Homo sapiens: one gene and its partners. The protein of the gene in region 4 purifies or fractionates together with the protein of the main gene of each other region. This does not show direct contact. Each region holds a gene or a part of one and is shown on either strand. Other genes may lie near its edges.

Region 1 (3,500 bases), on a different chromosome or scaffold from region 4:
AAAAAACAGTGACCAGGTCTTTCTTCGAAGAAAGTCTAATGTGGATCTTCAATATAAAATACTAATAAGTAAATAGAACATAAAAAATTTGGTTATTAACATCATTATATTTTTTAAGTACTTAAAAACCTTTTACAAAAGTACCTGAATCAGGGCCAGGTGCAATGGCTCACGCCTGTAATCCTAGCACTTTGGGAGGCTGAGGTGGGTGGGTCACTTGAGTCCGAGAGTTAGAGACCAACCTGGGTAACATGGTGAAACCCCACCTCTACGAAAAATACAAAAATTAGCCAGGTGTGGTGGCATGTGCCTATAGTCCCAGCTACTTGGGAGGGTGAGGCAGGGGGATCATTTGAGCCCAGGATGCAGAGGTTGCAGTGAGCCAAGATTGTGCCACTGCACTCCAGCCTGGGCAAGAGAGCAAGACACTGTCTCAAATAAAAAAATAAATAAAATAAAAGTAGCTGACTCAGATGACTGCTGAAGCCTGTAACATAATCAAAAAGCACCCTGCAAGCTGCTCTGGCCCCAAACTCTCCATGACTTCTGAGGGTCTAGGTGGCAACTTTTCAATTTGGCATTAAAGATCCCAAACCTATCTCAAATCTTTCCTCCGGTAGCTCACGTTCTGGAGACGCCTGCCCTGCAGGCAGGCTGAGGCCGGGCTCCCTGACTGGCTTTCCCTCTCCCACCTCCACTGCTTTGGTGCAGGTCACCTGTCTTCCCTCATCAATCCCCTCCACTTTCCATCCGGGCTCTACCTCCTTCACACCTCTCCTACTATCCGGCCAAACCTGCCCACCTGAATTCCTTTGGCAAAGACTCCAACACTCCTCGTTTTGTTTTGAAGTTACATCAATACTTTCTTGATGATTTAGCTTTGGAGGAATTTCTGTCTTATCACTCCAATTAGAACTCACTCTCCTTGAGGGCAGGACATTCTCACAATTCTGCACATTGACTTGTACATGGTATCATCATCAGTCCTCCCTGGCTTCCTAGACTATAGTCTATGCCTGAAGTCTGAGAAATATTTTAATGTAGAGAAGGGACAGGAAGTGGGTAGGAAAAAAGTAAACAGGAAAACCTGGTAAAATATGTGAAAACTCCGCTCTCCTGGGTTCCTCATCACCACCCTAGATTTTTCCAGAAGGAAGTTGGAGATCTTTCCACCATCTGGTTCCCCACCTGGACTGAACTGGATTTCAAAGTATTTTCCCTGCAAGAAAGTTAGGGATTTCCTTCAATGGTTGGTGAACAAAACATGATGTCCCAAACAGGCTTTGAATACAGTATATAATTCAAGGAAATTCATTAATAAAATACACATTCTGAATTACTCCTAATTTGAGTCTAGACTTCCTTAGTTTTCAATCAGACAATAACCCGTGCTTTTGTCCAGCCACACGATTCTGTTAGAGAGAGCACCTATCATTCCAGCATGACTAAATAAGGATATGCTCTATTCCTTGCTCATTTTCCCCCAGTAGGTGCCTGTCTGCTCAACCAGAAGGTGTAAATCATGAGGCAGAAAAATGGCATGGCACCCTTTCAGAGGAAGAGCACTCTTGCTCTGTCAGGCTTCATCTCATGGCTTTGAGCAAAAACACTCAATCTCTCTTACCTACGGAGCATCTAAAATGTTTATCTAGAACGGAAACACTTTATTAAAAGTAAAGTTCTTTCTAGCTACTGACGGGCCTAGGGATTTTTGTCACTGTCATTGTTATGAAAATTCCTCTTTAAATGACTGCTAATAGGGAACAAAGGAGAATAAAAACCTAGACTGTAGTTGAAAAGGTATCTAGGTTGTTATATTAATTATATATAGCCAGGCGCGGTGGCTCACGCCTGTAATCCCAGCACTTTGAAGGCTGAGGCAGGTGGATCACTGGAGGTCAGGAGTTCGCAACCAGCCTGGTCAACATGGTGAAACCCCATCTCTGCTAAAAATACAAAAAATTAGCTGGGCATGGTGGCGGGTGCCTGCAGTCCCAGCGAGGCAGGAGAATCGCTTGAACCTGGGAGGTGGAGGATGCAGTGAGCCGAGATCATGCCACTGAACTCCAGCCTGGGCCAGAGAGCGAGACTCTGTCCAAAAACCAAAATAAAATGAATCAAAATTATATATATAATTATTATAACAATTATTATATATATTTCATATGTATATTTAAATTGGTTTTTTTTTCTCACTAGAACTTAATTTGTCTCCTGTGCTTAGAAACTTAAGCACCCTCAGAGGCCAGAAGGGTAAATACGGATAAAGGAAAAGAGGGAGTGGTGTGGTCTATGGTCAAACTGGAGAAGATGCCCAGCCTCATCGCATTCACATTTAATAACATAAAAATGTGTATGCTGACTAAATCCACCCATCTCAGGGATGAATTCAGCTGGGTTTTATGTCTGTGACTGGAGCTGTAAACTCATTAAGGGCAAGAAAAGTACTGTGCACACTGCAAATGTGTGAGTACATGCCGTGTTCCTGTTCGTAATTATTCTAGGTGTCAAGAAAGACCACCGAAGGCGGCCAGCCTCTAACTGTCTATGTGTCTTAATCTGATGATTCTTTTCCTCCAGGCAAAAAACAAAAACACCCAGCAGCACCAGGCACAGAGAACCACCAGCCATCGCTCTGCGGAATGTCAGTGGCACCTGAGAAAAGCTCACTGAAAGAGAGCTCCCGTGCTTCCTTTGGCGGCCACCTTCACCACCCTTTCCTTTTGGCATGTGATAGAGGGAATACTTCAGTGCCTGTCCCCCATTCCTCAACAGTTGAGGGAAAATGAAACCAAACAGAACATCTGACCCAGGAAGGGCAGGTGTTGGACAGGCAAGCTCCCAAGTCCTCCTAGCAGCAGTGCTCAACCTTGGATGCCCCTTAGAAACACCTGGGGAGCCTTTCCAACATGCTGTCAGCCCAGGCCACGCACATCAGACTCTAGGACCAGGGCCCGGAGCTGTGTGGTTTTCAAAAAGCACCCAGCTGATTTTTATGTGTGGTCAAGGTTGAGAACCACTGCTCTAACATAATAAAATGCATATGCATGGCTCATAATTGTCATATAAAAGTTAAAATTTCTAACAAAAGGTTAACATATTTAGGACTGCTGTATAGCAGCCTGGGGGGGATGACAGGAAATTTTATAAAGGGAATAAAAGGTTGCATTTGCATTTTGATAATGAAATGAAAAGAAGTTTCACCTCGACTCTTGGTAATGATTTATTTCCTAAGCTGGGTGCCAGATACATAGATGTTCATTGCATTGTTTTTAAATCGTGTTTGAAGTATTTCGTAATACATTCTTTAACTTGAAAAGATTTGTAAGTGTTAAATATATACATTCTTATGCTTCATAATACCTGTGCATTTTTTAAAGTGAAATTACTCATAATTCTACCCTGATGCCACTTCTTCATTCTCTTGCTAAATAATTACTGTCATAGATGTCAAACTTTGATTTACATACCTCTTAGTTACCTTTCATATAATGTGCACA
Region 2 (3,500 bases), on a different chromosome or scaffold from region 4:
TTATTTAAGTTGTGTTTCTTATAAGAGACTGGCATGACGTTAATGATCAGTACTTCTGTATTTCTTTATTTTTTGAGTAAGGAAGATTGCGAGTTTTGTATACTTTTACCCACTATTGTATAGCGGTTTCTTAATGTAACACTTTTAGCCATAAAAGTAGATTGTAACATACCTCTACTGCTGGTGTTTGAGCTACTAATGCCACTAGGTTTCTTGATGCCAGGACCTCCATTAAATAAGTAATTTCTTGTGATTTTAAATGTTTTTAAAAGCCTTTCCAAATTAGAAAACATTTATTAAACTATTGTTACAATGGTGAAAAAGAGCTTAGAGCTTAGTGAAGGAGAGACAAGTCCTCAGAAAGAGTGCTGGTGCCCAGCGACGGTGCAGGGAGGAGTGGGTGGGCAATCAGGTCCTGGGTCCAGGCTCTGATGTGGCAGAGGAAGAAGAGGGAGGAGTGGCTTGGGCTCTCGCTCGTATTGTGAGTTGGGAATCACAGGAGGAATAAGGGCTCCGCGTTGGGCATGTGTGTGCCTGACTTGGGGATGTCCGGGTGGAGATGTCTAGGAAGTAACTGGCTTCATGTCCTGCAATCAGATGAGAGACACAGGGCCAGTTAGCATTAGCATGGGGGGCCAGGCGGATGTGGCATGAGCCGAGATCCTGCCACTGCACTCCAGCCTGGGCAACAGAGCAAGGCTCTGCCTCAAAAAAAGAAATCTAAAGTAAGGTTCTAATAAAAGAAAAGTGAGAGTGCCCACAAGGATAAGGACAGATGGGTATCCGTATAGAGCACCAAGACAAGTGGTTAGGCACGAGAGGCAGACGGAGAACTTTTCCCTTCTGTGAATCTTGAATTGGCTGCCTCTGAGAAGTGGAATTGCGTGGCTGAGGAACAATGTGAGTTTTGTACCATGTTTGGGTATTATCTATTCCAAAAATAATTTTCTAAGGGCAGGCAGAAAAAGAGAAGCCAGAAAGTCAGGAAGATTGGTGGCCAGGAGTGTCATATGACACTGGGGTCAAATGACATGAAGACAAAAGTTGCTATTGGGCTTAAAGAGGTCTTCAGCTGCCCTTGGCCGTTTATGTGGAGTAATGAGGTGGAAGGCAGGTTAAGGTTTTCACAGTTCCAAATGTTACCGGCTGGTTGTGTGTTTAGGAGGGAGATTTGGAAAGGGGCATAATTTGAAGTTTAACCATTTTTCTTACACAAAACATTCCAAATTTAACTTAAAGATTTGGTATTAGAACAGGAATGAACGTTAGAATTTATTTATCAACATTCTCATTTTTTGAGTAAGGAAACTAGATCCAGAGAGAGAAAGGAATGCCCCATTCAGATTAGTACTATGCCTGTCTAGCACCTGCTTCTCCTGGACTGGCCCCACCACTTAGCCTACTCTCTGCTTCCGTTTCCTCATCTATAGGCAATAATTGTATATTAAAGATTTGTTTGTGAGAATCCAGTTACTATATGTAAAGTGCTCAGAACAATGCCAGGTATATAGTCTATAGTATGCGCTCACTAAAGGTTAACTATTAATTTGTGATTCAAGCCACCATTCTTTCCAGTATACTATAACCATGATTTTCTTTTAGAATTTTTTTCTGGAGAGACCTTAGACCTTTAATTTACCAGTTTTTATTATATCCACTCCTTCCTAGACCAGGTGATAGGTTTGATCGAGACAGACCGTTGAGAGGACGTGGAGGCCCGAGAGGGGGTATGCGCGGCAGAGGCAGAGGTGGCCCTGGGAACAGAGTTTTTGACGCTTTTGACCAGAGAGGAAAGCGAGAATTTGAAAGATATGGTGGGAATGACAAAATGTAAGTTTCTTTGTAAATGCTATTTTCACTTTAAGATGGTGTCAGCACGTGGTATGAATCTATTATGTGTTAATATTTAGTTAACTTTATAGTACTGTGCTGTTATTCTTGTGAGAAGCTGATCCTGGGACTTTTATGAACCACTCTTTCTGATTTGGAGATTGACTGGAGACTAGCTTCTGGTTTAAGGGACTATTCTTTCTTTCCGTAGAGCAGTCAGAACTGAAGACAACATGGGTGGATGTGGAGTTCGAACCTGGGGATCGGGTAAAGATACCAGGTACGGTGTAAGTGTGTGCCCTCTGAGAACCTGCAATTAAGTGGAAATCTCTGGATCTTTGCTTTTCTTGAAAATGATGTCTTCTGTATTGTGCTTTATACTTGTGTGCCCCTAAGTAGAGATTGATTTTAGGCTTTTGTTTCGTGAGATAAGTTTTTAAAACAGGTTTGCTATGTTGCAGTTAGATTTAAACTGCTTTTAAAATTCTATTACTTTAGCCAAACAAATTTGTGACAGATGACCATGTATTTGCTGATGCCTCAAACATATGGCACTGTACATTTGCACATGCCTCAAAATGCTTTTTGTTGGCTGCACACGGTGACTCACGCCTGTAATCCCAGTACTTTGGAAGCCAAGGTGGACGGATCACTTGAGGTCGGGAGTTTGAGACCAGCCTGTCCAACATGGTGAAACCCCGTTTCTACTAAAAATACAAAACCTAGCAGAGCATGGTGGCAGGCACCTGTAGTCCCAGCTACCCAGGAGGCTGAGGCAGAAGAATTGCTTGAACCTGGGAGGCAGAGGTTGCAGTGAGCCGAGATGGCACCACTGCTCTCCAGCCCGAGTGACAGAGCGAGACACAGCATCTCAAAAAAACAAAAAAAAGCTTTTTGTTTTGTTCATTATTTTTTAAAATGGTGACAAGATCTCACTATGTTGCCCACACTGGTCTTGAACTCCTGGGCTCAGGCAGTCCTCTTGCCTCAGCCTCCCAAAGTGCTAGGATTACAGGCATGAGCTACCACATCTGGCCTAAAATGCTTTTTAAATTCCTGGATATTCTATATGTTTTTACCTTTCAAAGTTCATGTGGATCCTTGACACATCTTCATTTCATAAAATCATTTGTAGATTGAAGCTTAGTGACAGGTTTCACCTGAGGCTCAAGTTGGACATTTCTCTGAGGCTTCATGGTGCCTTAGATCTGTGCCAATTCTTCTGCTAGTTAGAGTGGATACATGGTTCTGCTCTGTTTTATTTCACAGCTGGAGGGATGATGCCTTCCTGGTGTCTGCAGAAGAAGAGGTAGGGCATGCTGCAGGCAGTGCAGTGTGAGCAGTGCTACAGGGCAGGCTTCCCGCTAGTGCAGAGGCTTGAGGGGATCCAGGCTTCCACTTTTCTTCTTTTGAAGAATATAAGCTTTTTTTTTTTTTTTTTTGAGACGGAGTCTTGCTCTGTCACCCAGGCTGGAGTGCAATGGCGCGATCTCGGCTCACTGCAACCTCCGCTGCCCAGGTTCAAGTGATTCTCCTGCCTCAGCCTCCCAGGTAGGTGGGACTACAGGTGCACGCCACCATGCCTGGCTAATTTTTGTATTTTTAGTAAAGACGGGGTTTCACCACATTGGTCAGGCTGGTCTCGAACTCCTGACCTCAGGTAATCCACC
Region 3 (2,547 bases), on a different chromosome or scaffold from region 4:
GAAAGACAAAAGGTAAAATACGATTATTGTTACATGCTTAGTGGATAATTCATAGGTACAATTTAAATGAAGTTGTACATGTCACTAATTTTAAAAAACAACTTATTTTAGCAGTGGCATTTATAACTAAATTGTAAGAGACATAATTAAATATTTTAGCAGTGTAGTTTCTAAATACAGTGTTTTTTTTACCAAACATAATTTCTCCAAATTGTACAAAGTTAAAATTAACCTCAAATTCAAGGGTATTTATTTTCTTTTATAAATTAAGAGGGAATTATCTCACTTTTAAAAACACTTACTATACCTGAGGCAGAAAATACCCTTAAAACCTCAAAATAATATTGCCATAAGTTTTAATTCAATCTGAATCTGTCCTGGAATACAGTTTGTGGTTATGGTTTGTCAAATGCAAATTTCTGTTTTTCTTATTGTGAATATGTATATTTAACGTACAAAATTACATTCTTGGAAATGCAGTGAACCTTATGCTTCAGTGACCCCCTATGTCCAGAGTCACACGTAATTTTGGCACAGAGTCATATGTGATTTTGCTGAGGCAGGAATTGAAGGCAGCAGTGCCCCTAGGGCTGATGTTCATGTCACTGTCCAGAAGTGTGCCTGACTGGCCACATAAAGTTATCTAAAGAGCAACAAAGAAAATCAATTTTTATGGAAAATGTCTCTGAAAAGCCAGCTAAAAGTGCCAGTGACAAAAGGAAATTAAGGCAGTCTAAAGTGGTAATATAGGAAGATCCACAAAGGTCGAGAGCATACTCTGTATTTTTACTAGTGTACATGGTTATTTACTTGATTCTTGAGGGTTCTCGTTTAATCCCATGGCTGGTAGAAAATACCCGTTTAGTGTAAAAAGACATTTACTAGATTTCAGAAGCAGATCCTAAGGTCCTACCTTCATAGAAATGTATCAGTATTGAAACAGTAAAGGCCAAAAAAAAAAAAGCAAAAAAAAAACTTACTTGTTAAAAGTTACACATTTAGAAAGTATAATTTGCATCACAAAATAAACATTTGCTAGATTTAGCATCATTGCGCAAAAAGAACAAAGTGAAAATGAGAACTTTTTATTTGAGGGTAGTTGGGGACTCTTGTTCCTGCAGCCTACTAATGAGTCACACTAAGTGAAATGGGGCCTGGTTTTTAACTACAAGGTTTTACCTCTCCTGCTCTCAGTAATGTTGCTTCCAGAGATTCTACCTTATTGCTATACAAAGATCTCTTTGTTTTGGTAATCCACAGTCAGTTTACAGACAACAGGTGGTACCCCAGAGTTCTAGTGATTGAGTCTTCCTTTCTAGAAGAGATATCTTCTGCCCTATACTCCTTTTTGGGGGTGGAAAAAAAAGCACTGTTGTACATTTGAACTTTTTTTTGCTCTCTACAGGCTGAAATGGCTTTGCTTATGATGGATGAGGACGAGGACAGTAAGAAACACTTCAATTACAACAAGATTGTGGAGCACCAGAATCTGAGCAAAAAGAAGAAAAAGCAGCTCATGAAAAAGAAGGAATTAATAGAGGATGACTTTGAGGTAACCATAGACACCAGGCATAGCCTCTTAAAGCTGGAATTGAATCTAAAGTCAGCTCTGCAGATAGAAATTGAGCATAGTCAAAGTTACCCTTGAAAATGTCTTAGGGGCCCGGTGCAGTGGCTCACGCCTATAATCCCAACACTTTTTTGGAGGCCGAGGCATGAGGATCACTTGAGTCCAGGAGTTGGAGACCAGCCTGGGCAACATAGTGGGACCCTCATCTCTATGAAAAATAAAAAAAATTAGCTGGCTGGGCGTGGTGGCTCATGCCTGTAATCTCAGCACTTTGGGAGGCTGATGTGGGCAGATCACGAGGTCAGGAGGTCAAGACCATCCTGGCTAACACGGTGAAACCCCATCTCTACTAAAAATACAAAAAATTAGCCAGGCGTGGTGGCGGGCACCTGTAGTCACAGCTACTCAGGAGGCTGAGGCAGGAGAATGGCGTGAACCCAGGAGGCGGAGCTTGCAGTGAGCCGAGATCTCGCCACTGCACTCCAGCCCAGGTGACAGAGCAAGACTCTGTCTAAAAAAAAAAAAAAAAAAAAAAAAAAAAAAAATCCAGGTATAGTGGCGCACACCTGTAGTCCCAGCTACTCAGGAGGCTGAGGTGGGAGGATCGCTTGAGTCCAGGAGGTCAAGCCTGCAGTGAGCCATGATTGTGGCACTGCACTCCAGCCTGGGCAACAGAACAAGACCCTGTCTCAAAAAAAAAAAAAAAAGAAAAAAAAAGAAAATGTCTTCAGAAAGACTGATGGTGGAGCCAAAGGCTACTGTCTTTTAATCCAGCACAGCCAGTTCATCCTAGGGTGGATGAAATCATTGTTTCTTTGGTTGAGCACCAGGTGAAATAGTTGACTTGTATTTTGGTAGCCATATTGTACCAAAAATGTGTAGTTTTTAATGTTAGAATCACATGTAGTGATCCTCAGACCAGCAAAGGTATGCTTGAATAGCAGGTTCATGTCACAGTGGGTCACACTCACTGTGTG
Region 4 (3,500 bases):
TATTTATTAAGAACCTTCTGTGTGTTAGGTAGAGTTCAGCTGGAGATAAATCAGGGAATAGAACAGACAGAATTCTGCCTTCATGGAACTCAAATTCTAACATTAATATTTATCTTATTCATATAGAGAGAAATAACCATCAGAGTAAATACTTGTTACAGTGTTCATGAAACACATGAACATTTAAACATTAATAGAATTTTGTGATCTGCTAAAGGGAATGATATGAAGACACATTGCTATCTTTTTTTCATTTTTATTTTTCGTATCTGGTTAAAGTACAATGCTATTGTTAATTTCTTTACAATATTTTATTTCCTCATTTCTGAAACTAAGTTGATGTTTATATTTTTACTTACTTTGAGAGCCAAAGGCTGATTTCTTTAATTCTGCCTCCCACTTTAGGCCTTTAGTGCAAAACTTTGTATATTTTACATTGACTGTGTCTTTTCTAGAGTTAGTGTTAGAGGTGGACTCCTAGTAGTCCTATAATTATAAAACAAATTCCAATTATTTTTGACAAAAAACTCAAGCAACTAAGTTAGTGAGGGGTGGAGGGTGGTAGCATTAGGTTTTGTGGCTGGTTTAGAAGATAGCTGTTTCAATCAACCAGAAACACCTTTCTGGACTTTGAACAGAAATCGTTTTGGAGATTTAAAAGGATATGGTGTTGGGAAATACAAATTTTTGTTCTTAGTGTATGTCATTACCTCACTTTTATTTCTTGTTAACAGTCTGCAGGACCAGATATGTGATGTCAGTTTTCCTATGTTGGGTAGAAATATTTTGTTCTGTGTAATGTTAATAGGAAAAATTAAATATCTTCAGGGGTAACACGGGTTAAGTGTAAATGGAGTAAAATTGCAATAAAGAATTAAAGATGAATAACTCTAAGTTTTGAGAGTTTAATAGAAAATTTGTGCTAATGGTGAAAGGCAGTATGCCTTGTTTGAAAAAGAGTGCAAACTGGGAGACCAAATACTGACATTTGTTTTGTGTGTCAAATGGGAATCATTGAATGTTTGAATAATCCTTCTAATCTTATCTCCTCCAGGAGCATTTATGGATCTTCACTTATATCTGTTTAGGTTTGTAGCTTGCGTTGCAGTTTTTTTGTTTGTTTGTTTGTTTGTTTTTTTGAGATGGAGTCTTGCTCTGTTACCCAGGCTGGAGTGCAGTGGCGTGATCTTGGCTCACTACAAGCTCCGCCTCTCGGGTTCACGCCATTCTCCTGCCTCAGCCTCCCAAGTAGCTGGAACTATAGGCACCCACCACCACACCCAGCCAATGTTTTGTATTTTTAGTAGAGGCAGGGTTTCACCATGTTAGCCAAGATGGTCTTGATTTCCTGACCTCGTGATCCACCCACCTCGGCCTCCCAGAGTGCTGGGATTACAGGCGTGAGCCACTGCGCCCAGCCGTGTTGTAGTTATTTATGTATATATCTTTTGTTATCTTCCCTATTAGGCATATGCTTCTTCATAACGTTATTCATGACTGATGAATTTTTTATATTTACCATGGTGCTTTGTATATAGCACTTTGCATATAATAATTGTTAAATGACTGTCTTTTGAATGAGTGCATAATGCTACTTGCCTATCTAGAATATGTGTGAACCTAATTGAAAGAAGGCTGAAGCTCTTGAATAAGAAAGGAAATTGAAATGTTATGTGATTTAGGTCAGTTTTAAATGCAGACCAGACTGGTATAGTGATTATTAATTTGTTAACCTGCTGTCTGTTCTTTACCATGTATTAATATGGCATTAGTCCAGATAGTTTTAAGTGGCCAGATATCTATCTCCTGTCTCAACTGGCTCCAAGGATTTTTGGCACTCAACAAAGAGGCGAAGAACAGAAGGGGGTTGGAATGTGTGCCTCCTTCTTACCCTCACTTGTATGTTTTCAAGGCAAAATATATTACATTCGTAATCAATCTTGTATAACTAGTGCTATTTAAAATAACTGTCATTATCTATTCTTAAGTATTGTCAAATTAAAAGATTATTCTAAAGTCCCATTACTATTCAAGTTTTAAATAAAATAAGTGAATCAATATAATTTCATAATCAAAACTTTACATGTTTGTCTTTTAGTCTAAAGATCATCACCTTTCACTGAATGGTCTATTGTTTCCAACTTTTAACTATGTCCTTTCTACTTTAAGATACAAACTTCTGTTTATTCAAATCTTCCCACTTTCCCTTCTGAAAATCTTTTCTTTTTACCCTAGCTTGTCTGTTCCTTTTATATTTCAATCTAAGTGCTGCTTCCTTTGGTTCCTGGTACTCTTTATCATTTGCTGAACCAGTCCTCAACCTCTAATCACTTCTGCTCTAATGACATAACATATTGCTCCTGTTTGCATACTTAGAACTTTGAAGTTAGCCACATTCTTAGTTCTGTTCTGCAGTCCAATTTATTGTTTGATAACTCAGATTCCTTTTAGACCAGAGAGAGTGAAGTGGTGCTCTACAAGTTGAGTATGGGATGTTTTTACCCCAATGCAGCAAATTTCATATACATATCCAGATTTTTGCTTTTTCTTGAAAAAAAAAAAAACCTGGAAATTTTGACAGTACTTGGTTCTCATTCCTTTGAGGCAGTAATCTTACAGACTTGAGTCAGCTGCTGTCTTTATATAAGCCCTGCATGCTCTAATTTGGTTCAGCCTTCACCATGCTCTATTATTCTATAGCAGGACCAGTTCATGTATTTACATGTGCCAGCTTGGCTCCTATAGTCATTTTCAAGGACAAATATGTTTTCTATTCCTCTGAAAAAAATGCTGCATTTTTTATCACTCCCAGAATTTGCTCTCATACTGTCTAGAGTTCGTATGTGCAAGCGCTGCTTCCTCTTCCGTATCAGTTTCCCTTCCTCTTCCCCATCAGTTTCTTCCTAGCTTGCTGAAATCTAACGTTCATCTCTACACATTTACAGAAAGATGTTTATGCATGATTGCCTGTGAACGTACTGCTCAATTTGCCTTTAGGCTTTAAATGATGTATTTTAGGTATTTTTTTTCAGTATTTGTACTTTTTTCTTTCAGAATCTCGCACTGACTCCATTCTTTGGTGGACCTTCCTCTGGGTCCTCTCTGGGTGTTTGCCCCACAAGCTTAGATCTTCTCTCTTTACACATATGCCTTCAATTATTTTATTTACTTACATGGCTACCAATGCATAGATAAAGCTGTTGACGCAGATTTGATTGCTATCTTATTAGCAATCAAATCTGCATCAACAGCCTTATCATTCTGATCAATATGTATCCTTTCACTTGGTAGTCCCTCACTAACCTATGTTTAAACTAACTTCTCTTGAAGCATTTCTATTCATTGATGATTCATTTATTTCTTAATCAAGTATTCAGTGTCAACTATGTGTTAGATGTGTACTAAGTATTAGGGCTAAAGTATTGAGCCAAGCAGAACACTAAGTTAAGTGAGGTAAAATACATTGAACAAATAGTCACAAGAATACATGTTTAGAACAC
Region 5 (3,500 bases), on a different chromosome or scaffold from region 4:
AGAGGCCAAGGCAGGCGGATCACCTGAGGTCGAGAGTTTGAGACCAGCCTGACCAACATAGAGAAACCCCATCTCTACTAAAAATACAAAATTAGCCGAGTGTGGTGGCGCATGCCTGTAATCCCAGCTACTCAGGAGGCTGAGGCAGGAGAATCATTTGAACCCAGGAGGCAGAGTTTGCCGTGACCCGAGATCCTGCCATTGTACTCCAGCCTAGGCAAGAAGAGTGAAACTCCGTCTCAAGAAACAAAAAAGGCTGGGCACGGTGGCTCACCCCTGTAATCCCAGCAGTTTGGGAGGCCACTGCGGGCAGATCATGAGGTCAGGCGTTTGAGACCAGCCTGGCCAATGTGGTGAAACCCCATCTCTACTAAAAAATACAAAAATTAGCCAGGCATGGTGGCACGTGCCTATAGTCCAGCTACTCAGGAGGCTGAGGCAGGAGAATTGCTGGCACCCGGGAGGCGGAGGGTGCAGTCAGCCGAGATAGCTGCACTCCAGCCTGGGTGACAGAGTAAGACTTTAAAAAAAAAAAAAAAAGAATGAATGTCCACTGTCAGAAGTGCATGAGTTCTGTTCTCTTTCAAAATATGTGCCTTCCTGCTCATTACTGCATTCCTCCTGTCTTGTCATCACCAACTCTGATTTAGGTATGGCTAGTGGAAGGATGACTTGTATGCTTTTAAGGTTAAAACTGTTTGAAGGGAATTCAGGAAGGACCCGTTCTATCCTGAAGCTTTCTTGTTCTTGTTCTTGTTGTTTTGAGACGGAGTCTTGCTCTGTCGCCCAGGCTGTAGTGCAGCAGCGCAGTTTCGGCTCACCGCAACCTCCGCCTCTTGGTTCAAGCGATTCTCCTGCCTCAGCCTGCTGAATAGCCGGGACTACAGGCGCACCTGCCACCACGCCCAGCTAATTTTTGTATTTTCAGTAGAGGCGTTTCATCATGTTGGCCAGGCTGGTCTAAAACTCCTGACCTCAAGTGATCTTCCCGCCTCCGCCTCCCAAAGTGCTGGGATTACAGGTGTGAGCCACTGCGCCCGACCTGTCCTGAAGCTTTATACACTTGAACAAGCTCCCCTTCCCCTCTAGATGTGTGAGAGATTATTGGAAGAAAACCTTGCCATTGTTGAAGACATCTTGCCCTCACACGCCTGCCTTGGGTATGGAAGGGTGGGTGAGGCAGGGCTAGTTATACCCACCACTCAGTCACCCCCCGAATTATCATCACCTTCTTTTTATTTACCACAGAATCTGAAGAAGAGCTGGCACCCGCAGACCCTCAGGAATGTGGAGAAAGTGTGGAAGGCCGAGCAGAAGCATGAGGCTGAGCGGAAGAAGATTGAGGAGCTTCAGCGGGAGCTGCGAGAAGAGAGAGCCCGGGAAGAGATGCAGCGCTATGCGGAGGATGTTGGGGCCGTCAAGTAAGTGAGGAGCTGGGGGTGCGCTTGTGTGTAGGGAATTGCAGAGCTGTCCTGAGATGCATCATCCAGTGTTGTATAATGGCTGAGTGCTTAAGGGCATGGGTTGTAATGCCAGACTCACCTGGATTCTAAGGTTGGCTTTGCATGTACTAGCTGTGGAACTGTGATCAAATTTGAGAGACTTGGTTACTTCAGTAGGACCAGGGAGTAATAATACCCAACGCCTTCTTAAGGTTTGTTGAGAATCAAATGAGATAACACGTAAGGACTTGCTGTAAGCCGAGCTCACAGTAGATGGCTGATAACCGTGATGGAGGATGGTTGCTCTACCCTGCTTCTCAGCATATGTTGAGGATGCAGTCCTGCCTTTGTTAATGTATTTCAGGCTTGCTTGGGTCGGCGGGGACAGGGGGCAGGGAGTGAGGTCCCATGAGAGAAGGTGGATGGTATGCTTGTCAATAAAAGCTGAGTGATTACGGCCAATGCCACTAGATTTTACCCTGCTTCAATTTCCTGTTGTATAATATAGGATACGAGTAGCAGATAATAACTACCCCATCCATCTCATAAAAGGAGATGGGAGTAAATATGTTTGAGAAAATAAAAAGCATACAATATGCAGTGTATTCTTAAGTCAGAATAAAATAAAATAACAGATAGACTAAAACTGGGGACTAGGTGCGGTGGTTCATGCCTGTAATTGCTGTATTTTGGGAGGCTGAGAAATCACTTGAGCCCAGGAGTTTGAGACCAGTCTGGGTAATGTAGTGAGGCTCCATCTCTGTTTAAAAATATATAGGCTGAGTGTGGCGGCTTATGCCTATAATCCCAGCACTTTGGGAGACTGAGGCAGGCAGATCACTTGAGGCCAGGAGTTCTAGACCAGTCTGTAGTAGGAACCCATCTCTACAAAACAATAGAAAAAAATTAGCCAGGCACGATGGCTTACGCCTGTAATCCCAGCACTTTGGAAGGCCGAGGCGGGCAGATCACTTGAGGTCAGGAGTTCGAGACCAGCCTGACCAACATGGTAAAACCCTGTCTCTATTAAAATACAAAAATTAGCTGGGTGTGGCGGTAATCCCAGCTACTCAGGAGGCCGAGGCAGGAGAATTGCTTGAACCCGGGAGGCAGAAGTTTCAGTGAGCTGAGATCATGCCACTGCACTCCAGCCTGGGCGACAGATTGAGACTCCATCTCAAAAAAACGAACAAACAAAAAAAAAATAGAGGCTGGGTGCAGTGGCTCACGCCTGTAATCTAGCACTTTGGGAGGCCGAGGTGGGCGGATCACCTGACGTCAGGATTTCGAGACCAGCCTGGCCAACACGGTGAAACCCCATCTCTACTAAAAAAAAAAAAAAAAAATTAACTGGGCGTGGTAGCATGCATTTGTAGTCCTAGCTACTCGGGAAGCTAAGGCAGGAGAATCGCTTGAACCCAGAAGGTGGAGGTTGCAGTGAGCTGAGATTGCGCCAGTGTACTCCAGCCTGGCGACAGAGCGAGACTCCGTCTCAAAAAAAAAAAACCAAAAATTAGCCAGGCATGGTGGCACATGCCTGTAATCCCAGCTACTCGGGAGGCTGAGGCAGGAGAATCACTTGAACTCAGGAGTTGGAAGTTTTAGTGAGCTGAGATCACGCCATTGCACTCCAGCCTGGGTGACAGAGTAAGACTTCGTCTCAAAAAAAAAAAAAGAAAGAAAGGAAAAGTTAGCTGGGCATGGTGGCATGTGCCTGTAGTCCCAGCTACTTGGGAGGCTGAGGTAGGAGGATTGCTTGAGCCCAGGAGTTCGAGGCTACAGTGAGCTATGATTTTGCCACTGACTTCGGCCTGGGTGACAGAGTGAGACTCTGCCTCTAAGTAAATAAATAAATAAATAAATAAGTAAAAATTGATTTTAGACTGAATACCCATTAGTCATAAGCCGAGGTACTATCCAAAGGTAAAAATTGTTTTGACATTTTTATTCACCAAAGCATTACACATCATGTGCTCAATTTATCAGAAATTTGGGCTTTTGTGGAGTCTGATTAATGAGGTCAGAGTACAGATGCACAACTGTAGAGAAAGGAGCCAG
Region 6 (3,500 bases), on a different chromosome or scaffold from region 4:
TCGTGCCTTTTGTTTGTTTTTCGTTTTGGAGATGGAGTCTCGCTCTGTCACCCAGGGAGGAGTGTGGTGGCGCAATCTTGGCTCACTGCAACCACTGCCTCCCAGGTTCAAGAGATTCTCCTGCCTCAGCCTCCCGGGTAGTGGGTAGCTGGGACTACAGGCACGTGCCACCACGCCTGGCTAATTTTTTGTATTTTTAGTAGAGACGAGGTTTCACTGTGTTAGCCAGGATGGTCTAGATCTCCTGATCTCAGGTGATCCGCCCACCTTGGCCTCCTAAAGTGCTGGGATTACAGGCGTGAGCCACAGCGCCTGTCTGATCATGTTAGTTTTGAGAGCAAGACCCTGTATTAAAAAAAAAAAGAATTGCAAATCTTGACAGCCTATAACTTTGTAACTTTGTTGCCTTTTTTTTGTTTTGTTTTTTGTTTTTGTAGAGTTTTGCTTTTGTTGCCCAGGCTAGAGTGCAATGGCGTGATCTCGGCTCACTGCAACCTCTGCCTCCCGGGTTCAAGCAATTCTCCTGCCTTAGCCTCCCAAGTAGCTGGAATTACAGGCATGCGCCACCACGTCCAGCTAATTTTGTATTTTTAGTAGAGATGGGGTTTTCACCATGTTCGCCAGGCTGGCCTCAAACTCCTGACCTCAAGTGATCCACCGGCCTCGGCCTCCCAAAGTGGTGGGATTACAGGCGTGAGCCACTGCGCCTGGCCTGTTGTTGTTTTGAGACAGAGTCTTTTTTTTTTTTTTTGAGATGGAGTCGCTCTGTCTCCCAGGCTGGAGTGCAGTGGCGTGATCTCGGCTCACTGCAAGCTCCGTCTCCCGGGTTCATGCCATTCTCCTGCCTCAGCCTCCCAAGTAGCTGGGATCACAGGCACATGCCACCACGCCCGGCTAATCTTTTTTTGTATTTTTAGTAGAGATGGGGTTTTACCATGTTGGCCAGGCTGGTCTCGAACTCCTGACCTCAGGTGATCCGCCCGACTGGGCCTCCCAAAGTGCTGGGATTACAGGTGTGAGACACTGCGACTGGCCGCCCCCAACCCCAGTTTCTGATCAGATCGTTGGGCCACAAGACACCAGGTGCCTGGTGGCCTTCAGTCCTGCCCTTTCTCTGCAGAATGACCTTCCCGCCAGCACTCCTGCCTCCAAATCCTGTGACTCCTCCCCGCCCCAGGACGCTTCCACCCCCGGGCCCAGCTCGGCCAGTCACCTCTGCCAGCTTGCTGCCAAGCCAGCACCTTCCACGGACAGCGTCGGTGAGCACCTTGCCTGTTGGTGCCTGTCTGGAGCAGGCCTCGTCTCTGGGGAGATCTAGGAAAAGGGGCTGGAGAGGCAGAATGCTGGGATTCCAGGCTTGGTGTTCATTGCCTTGGTCCTTTTTGTGACTTCAAGTTAGACGCTGCCTCCCTCTGGGCAGTTCCTCATTGTGTCAGCTCGGCGGGTAGGGAAACTGAGGCCTGGAGAGTGGAAGCGGCTTAGTCGGGGGTTTCAGCCTAGTGCACTGGAAAGACAATCTTTGGGGCCAGACAGACTTGGGTTTCAGACCAGGCTTGGGCATTCACCAGCTGGGTGACCTCGGGCAAGTGACCCAACCTCTCTGAGCCTCAGTTTCCCCATCAGTAATCTGAGGAATGACAGTGCTCATCTTTTCTGCCTTATGGTCAGGCCCTGGGCTGGTTCTGGGGCCCCTGAAAGAAGCTGGCCTTGGAATCTGCCCTCAAGGAACTCCCAGGTGGCAAAAAGGGACAGGACCCAGACCCCAAAACTCACAGCCCTGTATAGTCAGGGCTGGTACCAAGGCAGGTACCCAAGATGGGCAGGGCTGGAGGTTGGCAATGGGGAGGCTCAAGGATGTTTCTGAGATGTTAATGGACATTGGGCCTGGGTTTTGTTTTTTTTTTTCCTTTTTTTTTGAGACGGAGTTTCACTCTTGTTACACAGGCTGGAGTGCAATGGCACCATCTCAGCTCACTGCAACCTCCCGCTCCCAGGTTCAAGCAATTCTCCTGCCCCAGCCTCCTGAGTAGCTGGAATTACGGGCATGCACCACCATGCCCAGCTAATTTTTGTATTTTTAGTAGAGACCAGGTTTCACCATGTTGGTCAGGCTGGTCTTGAACTCCTGACCTCAGGTGATCCGCCCACCTCGGCCTCCCAAAGTGCTGGGATTACAGGCGTGAGCCACTGTGCTCGGTGGGCCTGGGTTTTGAAGGATGGATAGGAGTTTGCCAATTAAAAGAAGGAGAATGGCCATAGTCCCAGCTACTCAGGAGGCTGAGGCAGCAGAATTGCTTGAACCCAGGAGGCAGAGGTTTCAGTGAGCCGAGATCGCGCCACTGAACTCCAGCCTGGCGACAGAGCAAGATTCCATCTCAAACAAAAGAAAAAAAGAGAGAGAGAAAGTCGTGTCCACTGGAGGAACGATAGTGCAGAGGTCTGGAGGTGTCCCAGGCTATGGCCAATGTGGAACCAGCACATGGAAACTCTAAATGAAAGGCCAGGGAGCTCCCAAGGCAGTGGGAGGCGGGATCTGGGTCCAGGGCGTCAAAACCTGTCCCCGACTCTTCCGTCTCAGCCCTGAGGAGCCCCCTGACTCTGTCCAGTCCCTTCACCACGTCCTTCAGCCTGGGCTCCCACAGCACTCTCAACGGAGACCTCTCCGTGCCCAGCTCCTACGTCAGCCTCCACCTGTCCCCCCAGGTCAGCAGCTCTGTGGTGTACGGACGCTCCCCCGTGGTGAGTCCTTGGGTGGGGGCGCAGGAGGTGTCAGCAGGGCCCAGGGGCTGGGGGCCGGGAGGAGAAACCAACTACACAAGGAGAGACAAGGGAGTGCAGAAAGGGAAGGGAGCCCTGGCTCAGCAAGTATGCATGGGAAGACAATCTGGGGGTCTCAGTAGTCCCACAAGCTTAATACAAAGCAAGACTTCTGATTGTGGAAAAACGCAACAGCGATTAAGCTGCATGAAGAGGAGCAGTAGGGCCTTGGCCTCGGGACACTGTTTACAAAAACAGGCAGTGGACCAGATTTGTCCTGGGAGGGGCTGGAGTTTTCAGAACCCTGGCCTAGAGCCAGTCTGGGCATTGGATGGAGAACCCTTCAGGATCCTTGGAACCGTGGAGTTCTAGGATTTCCTGGATAGAGATTTTGGTGTCGGTGTGCTCAAGTGAAAACCTCAGCCCTCTCATCTGTAGTGTGACAGGCAGAGAGAAGGCATCTCTGCTGCCTTGGGGAGGGGTGATAAACAGAGAGGGGTATGGCAGGTGGGCGTGGGGTGGCACAGAGGTGGGTTGGAGTCACCTGCCTCACTGACACCCCCCTGGCATTCTCACAGATGGCATTTGAGTCTCATCCCCATCTCCGAGGGTCATCCGTCTCTTCCTCCCTACCCAGCATCCCTGGGGGAAAGCCGTGAGTACCAGGGTGGGGCTCCCTGCCTGGGGTCCCGGGCCAGCCCCCCACCTCCTCTGAGGTCTTACCCTCTGTGGTTGGGGTCTCC
Region 7 (4,082 bases), on a different chromosome or scaffold from region 4:
TCCCAGGCTTGAGTGATCATCCCACCTCAGCCTCCCAAGTGGCTGGGACCACAGGTGCACACCACGGCGTGGCACCCAGCTAATTCTGTTTTATTTTTTGAAGAGACAAAGTCTTACTATGTTGCCCAGGATGGTCTTGAACTCCTACGCTCAAGCAATCCTCCCACCTTGGCTTCCCAAAGTGCTGGGATTAAAGGCATGAGCCTCCGCACCCGACCTATTTTCGTTATGAATTACCCAGTCTGAGGTATTCAGTGATAGCAACAGAAAATGTACTAAGGCATAGACACAGAGGAAAGACAGCCACGTGAGGACAGAGGCAGAGGCTGGAGAGATGCACATGCAAGCCAAGGAACACCCAGGATGGCCAGTGACCCCCAGCAGCTGGGAGAGAAGCAAAGAAAGAGTCTGCCCACAGCCCCCAGAGGGAGTGTGGCCCTGCGCACATCTTCATTTCCAACTTCTGGCCTCCAGAGCCGTGGGAGAATACATTTCTGTTGTTTGAAGCTATCCAGTTTGTGGAACTTTGTTACAGCAGCCCTGGGGAATGAATACATGGTCTTAGAGGGGAGACTTTTGGTATTCAGAAAAAGGCCTTGTCCTGTGTGAATTTCCCATCTCTTTATGGCTGCCTGAAACCCCCCCGCCCCCCTTAACATGCTTCTTTCCTTTAGAAGAAGGGACAGATCCAGGCTTCTATTCATGTGTCCCTGGAAAGTCACATTCCTCGGTTGCCTCTATCATGTCTTCAGTGCAACTGCTTCTATAGACCATGTGGCGTGGTCTCAGTGTTGGAAATGTCTCCTTCCTTCCCCCGGGGTGGGCTCCCTCCTTGGGTCTCCAGCCTCCATGCAGGACCTGGGGGAGGGGGACTGAGTGGGTGAGATCCCTCCCAGGGCAGCATTCGGCAGACCGCAAGTCAAGGTTGCAGAGTGTATGCAGCCAGGGGTAGCAGCCACTTCAGGATCTGGGTCTGGATTTGTGCTGAGAACCACTATGACCTTTTAAAGCCAGTGAGGAGGTTTTCTGGGGGCCCAGAAGCCCTGAGCCCATTGGCCAGACCTCCTGGGAGAAGCGGAGCGGATTTGCATCAAAAAGAACACTGGCTTCATTGAAATTCTCCTCATCTTGAGAGAAACAAAACCACAAAGAAAAGGAAAGTTTTAATTCTGAGAAACTTCACTGAGGAGCAATTTTTTTTGAGCTTCTAAAAATAGAGAGGAAATGAGCCTCTTTGGGTCACTCTAGTTGCCGCCTCCCCTGCCCCATGCCCACCCCCACTGCTCACTCAAGGCTAGCCTCTCTCAGTGGGTGACTGAGCTGTCTTCAGTGGAAGCCCGAGGCAGATGCCACGCAATTCTGGAGCTGGATACGGCTGCCCACACGGGGACCCCAGCATGCTGGACAGCAGAGAGACCCCACAGGAGAGCCGGCAGGACATGATTGTGAGGACCACCCAAGAAAAATTGAAAACCAGGTAAGTCATTGGTTGGGTTTCTGCACACTGCACCTGTGGGCCGAGTTCTAGACTTTGCTCTGCTGTGTGAACTTGGGCAAGCTGCTTCTCTCTCTGAGCCTCAGTTTCTTCACCTGGGAAATGAAGGGAAGGATCTGGGCGATCCGTAAGATGGAAGAACTGGTCATTTGGAGGGCTACTTAGCATGGCTAAGAAAGGCTCATCAAAGAATGAGGCACATCCCAGGGGTATGAGCTGGGGCTGCAGTTGGAGACCAGTTGGATCTCAGTTGGATGGAGGAGGAATTTTTCAGTCAAGAATGTTTCCCTGTCTCCTCAAGGGGGACTTTTGCCTGCGGGGGTCAAAGACAGATAAGTTTTGGTGGGGACCCAGAGGTTCCCGCTCCAGTTTGCTGCGTGACCTTGGCAAGTGCCTTTGCCCTCCGTGGGCTGTAGCTTCCCTGTCTGAATATGAGTGCAGTGGCTGAGGTTTCCCTAAAGCCCTTCCACTGTATATATTCCAGTAATCTGTGATTTAGAGGAAGTGGATTCAACGTATCAGGCATTCACCAATGCCCACCCTGGCCCAGGCCCTGTCCATCCAGGGAGTAGGGGATCCTGAGAAGATGAGACTCAGTCCCAGCCCTGGGATGCCCTGGCCAGAAGGCAGGAAGAAGGCAGGCGCACGCGCACACGCACACACACGGAACTCCAGGACCCCAACATCTGTGATTTGTGTCCAGGAGGGGCGCAGGCGAAGGGGCAGAGAGAAGGAGGTTTCTAACTGGGGCGCCTGAGATGGACCTTGACGGTCAGAGTGGAGCCAAGAGCAGTGGGCAGAGAGAACGACCTAACAAAGCAAGACAGGAAGTTTGGGGATGGGAGAGGTCTGGGTGGCGGAAGCATAGAACTGGGGAGGACAGGGGCTAAATACCAGGGTCCAAGTCCTCTGTAGTAATGGGGAGGAATTGCCAGTGTCTGAGCTACCAAGACTACAGCCCCTGTCCTGATGGAAGGTTATGGGGAAGGAAGATAGAGGGAAATGGGAACAGATGTTAATGCGCCTCAGAGATGCAGAGGCCCCTCCGAGGGCTGGCATCTGGGCCCTGCCCTGGGTCTCCAGAGAACCCTGCTAATCCAAAGTGGACTCCTGTTCTTCCAGAAGCAGGGACTCTTCCCTGCAAAGCCTCCAAGAGCATGAGGGCAAGCCCCTCCCTGGGCATAGGTCAGGTGCACAGAGGGTCAAGGGCCCCTGGAAGAAAGCTGGACTGACTTCCTCACCCAAGGGCAGATTCAGGATCTCCTCTGGGCCCCGGTGTCCTGGCACCTCCCCTCCTCCCTGGGGTCTGTGGGCTCAGAGAGCAGGAAGGCCAGGCGAGATGCTCAGAGGAGCACATCGAAATATGTCCAGAGGCCATGCATGATGGCTCATGCCTGTAATCCCAGCACTTTGGGAGGCTGAGTCGGGTGGATCACCCAAGGTCAGGAGTTCTGAGACCAGCCTGCCCAATGTGATGAAACTCTGTCTCTACTAAAAATACAAACAGCCAGGTGGTGGTACGTGCCTGTAATCCCAGCTACTCAGGAGGCTGAGGCAGGAGAATTGCTTGAACCCGGGAGGTGGAAATTGCAGTGAGTCAAGATCGTGCCACTGCACTCCAGCCTGGGCCACGAGAGCAAAAGTCCTTCTCAAAAAAAAAAAAAAGAAGAAAAAGAAATAAATGTGCCCAGAGCAGGGGTAGACAGGCATGAGGACAGCCAGGGCCAGGGGAGTCTTTGAAAACAAAATCAAGGTCTGCAGGATCTCAGGGTCTTCTGCTCCCTGTGAGTGAGGGGCCAAGTGGGGCTCAGGGCCACAGGAGCCTGTGTCTCAGGCCTGTGGTGAAAAGGGGTGGCAGAGGGTCCTGTGTGCCCTGCAAAGCTCACAGAGGACTGGGCTTGTTTTGCAGACATCACTGAAGGAAAGTAGGCAAACTTGAGGCAGAACCCTAGGCTTGTGCAGAGAAGGACTCCCTCCTGAAAGGGTAAATGGGTCTTGGGACCCCGTAGGGAAAGAGAAAGGCTAAAAACCCAAGAGTTGGAGTGTCAGTTCTACTACTTTCTTGCTGAGTGACTTTGGATACATTGTTTAACCTTTCTGAGCCTCAATAGCATCCTCTGTACAAATAAATATACAACGCCTGAACTTCATTGACATTGCAGAAAAATTGGGTGGATTCCATCAGCTAATGTGTATGAAAATGTTTTCAAAGCATAAGAGTTACCCATCACAGGCATAGTAACTCTCATAGCAACACTCTTAGCAGCAGGCTGGAGGTCACATGCCTTGGGTTCCAGTCCAGCTCTGCTCCTAACCCATTCTGTGACCCTTGGCAAGATACCTTCTCTGAGCCTCAGTTTCCCCATCTGTCAAACAGGGAAGCTAAACCTGCTCTGACATTCTTGCAGAGCAGCTGTGAGAAAAGAACTTAATTCTTGTAAAACATTGTTCTAAAGTCAGAGAGAGCCAGGTGCAGTGGCTCATGCCTGTAATTCTAGCACTTTAGGAGGCCAAGGAAGGAAGATTGCTTGAGTGCAGGAGTTCAAGACCAGTCTGGGCAACAAAGCAAGACCTTGTCTCTGCTAAA

What was found.
Region 1: the proteins of ANKRD50 (region 4) and MYO1E purify together in Homo sapiens (affinity purification with mass spectrometry; one large-scale study listed by BioGRID and IntAct). This does not show direct contact.
Region 2: the proteins of ANKRD50 (region 4) and HABP4 purify together in Homo sapiens (affinity purification with mass spectrometry; one large-scale study listed by BioGRID and IntAct). This does not show direct contact.
Region 3: the proteins of ANKRD50 (region 4) and ESF1 purify together in Homo sapiens (affinity purification with mass spectrometry; one large-scale study listed by BioGRID and IntAct). This does not show direct contact.
Region 5: the proteins of ANKRD50 (region 4) and CWC25 purify together in Homo sapiens (affinity purification with mass spectrometry; one large-scale study listed by BioGRID and IntAct). This does not show direct contact.
Region 6: the proteins of ANKRD50 (region 4) and TLE2 purify together in Homo sapiens (affinity purification with mass spectrometry; one large-scale study listed by BioGRID and IntAct). This does not show direct contact.
Region 7: the proteins of ANKRD50 (region 4) and ACSBG1 purify together in Homo sapiens (affinity purification with mass spectrometry; one large-scale study listed by BioGRID and IntAct). This does not show direct contact.

What each region holds. Positions count from the first base shown.
Region 1 is NC_000015.10:59,226,372-59,229,871, forward strand, and holds part of MYO1E (unconventional myosin-Ie), read right to left. Parts: intron 1,220-3,500; coding exon 1,088-1,219; intron 1-1,087. UniProt on the Homo sapiens protein: Actin-based motor molecule with ATPase activity. Unconventional myosins serve in intracellular movements. Their highly divergent tails bind to membranous compartments, which are then moved relative to actin filaments.
Region 2 is NC_000009.12:96,463,669-96,467,168, forward strand, and holds part of HABP4 (intracellular hyaluronan-binding protein 4), read left to right. Parts: intron 1-1,668; coding exon 1,669-1,830; intron 1,831-2,041; coding exon 2,042-2,110; intron 2,111-3,500. UniProt on the Homo sapiens protein: Ribosome-binding protein that promotes ribosome hibernation, a process during which ribosomes are stabilized in an inactive state and preserved from proteasomal degradation.
Region 3 is NC_000020.11:13,716,373-13,718,919, reverse strand, and holds part of ESF1 (ESF1 homolog), read left to right. Parts: coding exon 1-12; intron 13-1,405; coding exon 1,406-1,552; intron 1,553-2,547. UniProt on the Homo sapiens protein: May constitute a novel regulatory system for basal transcription. Negatively regulates ABT1.
Region 4 is NC_000004.12:124,702,733-124,706,232, reverse strand, and holds part of ANKRD50 (ankyrin repeat domain-containing protein 50), read left to right. Parts: intron 1-3,500.
Region 5 is NC_000017.11:38,818,822-38,822,321, reverse strand, and holds part of CWC25 (pre-mRNA-splicing factor CWC25 homolog), read left to right. Parts: intron 1-1,248; coding exon 1,249-1,421; intron 1,422-3,500. UniProt on the Homo sapiens protein: Involved in pre-mRNA splicing as component of the spliceosome.
Region 6 is NC_000019.10:3,008,781-3,012,280, reverse strand, and holds part of TLE2 (transducin-like enhancer protein 2), read left to right. Parts: intron 1-1,120; coding exon 1,121-1,259; intron 1,260-2,578; coding exon 2,579-2,739; intron 2,740-3,335; coding exon 3,336-3,412; intron 3,413-3,500.
Region 7 is NC_000015.10:78,231,766-78,235,847, reverse strand, and holds the start of ACSBG1 (long-chain-fatty-acid--CoA ligase ACSBG1), read left to right. Parts: upstream 1-1,282; 5' UTR 1,283-1,346; coding exon 1,347-1,477; intron 1,478-4,082. UniProt on the Homo sapiens protein: Catalyzes the conversion of fatty acids such as long-chain and very long-chain fatty acids to their active form acyl-CoAs for both synthesis of cellular lipids, and degradation via beta-oxidation.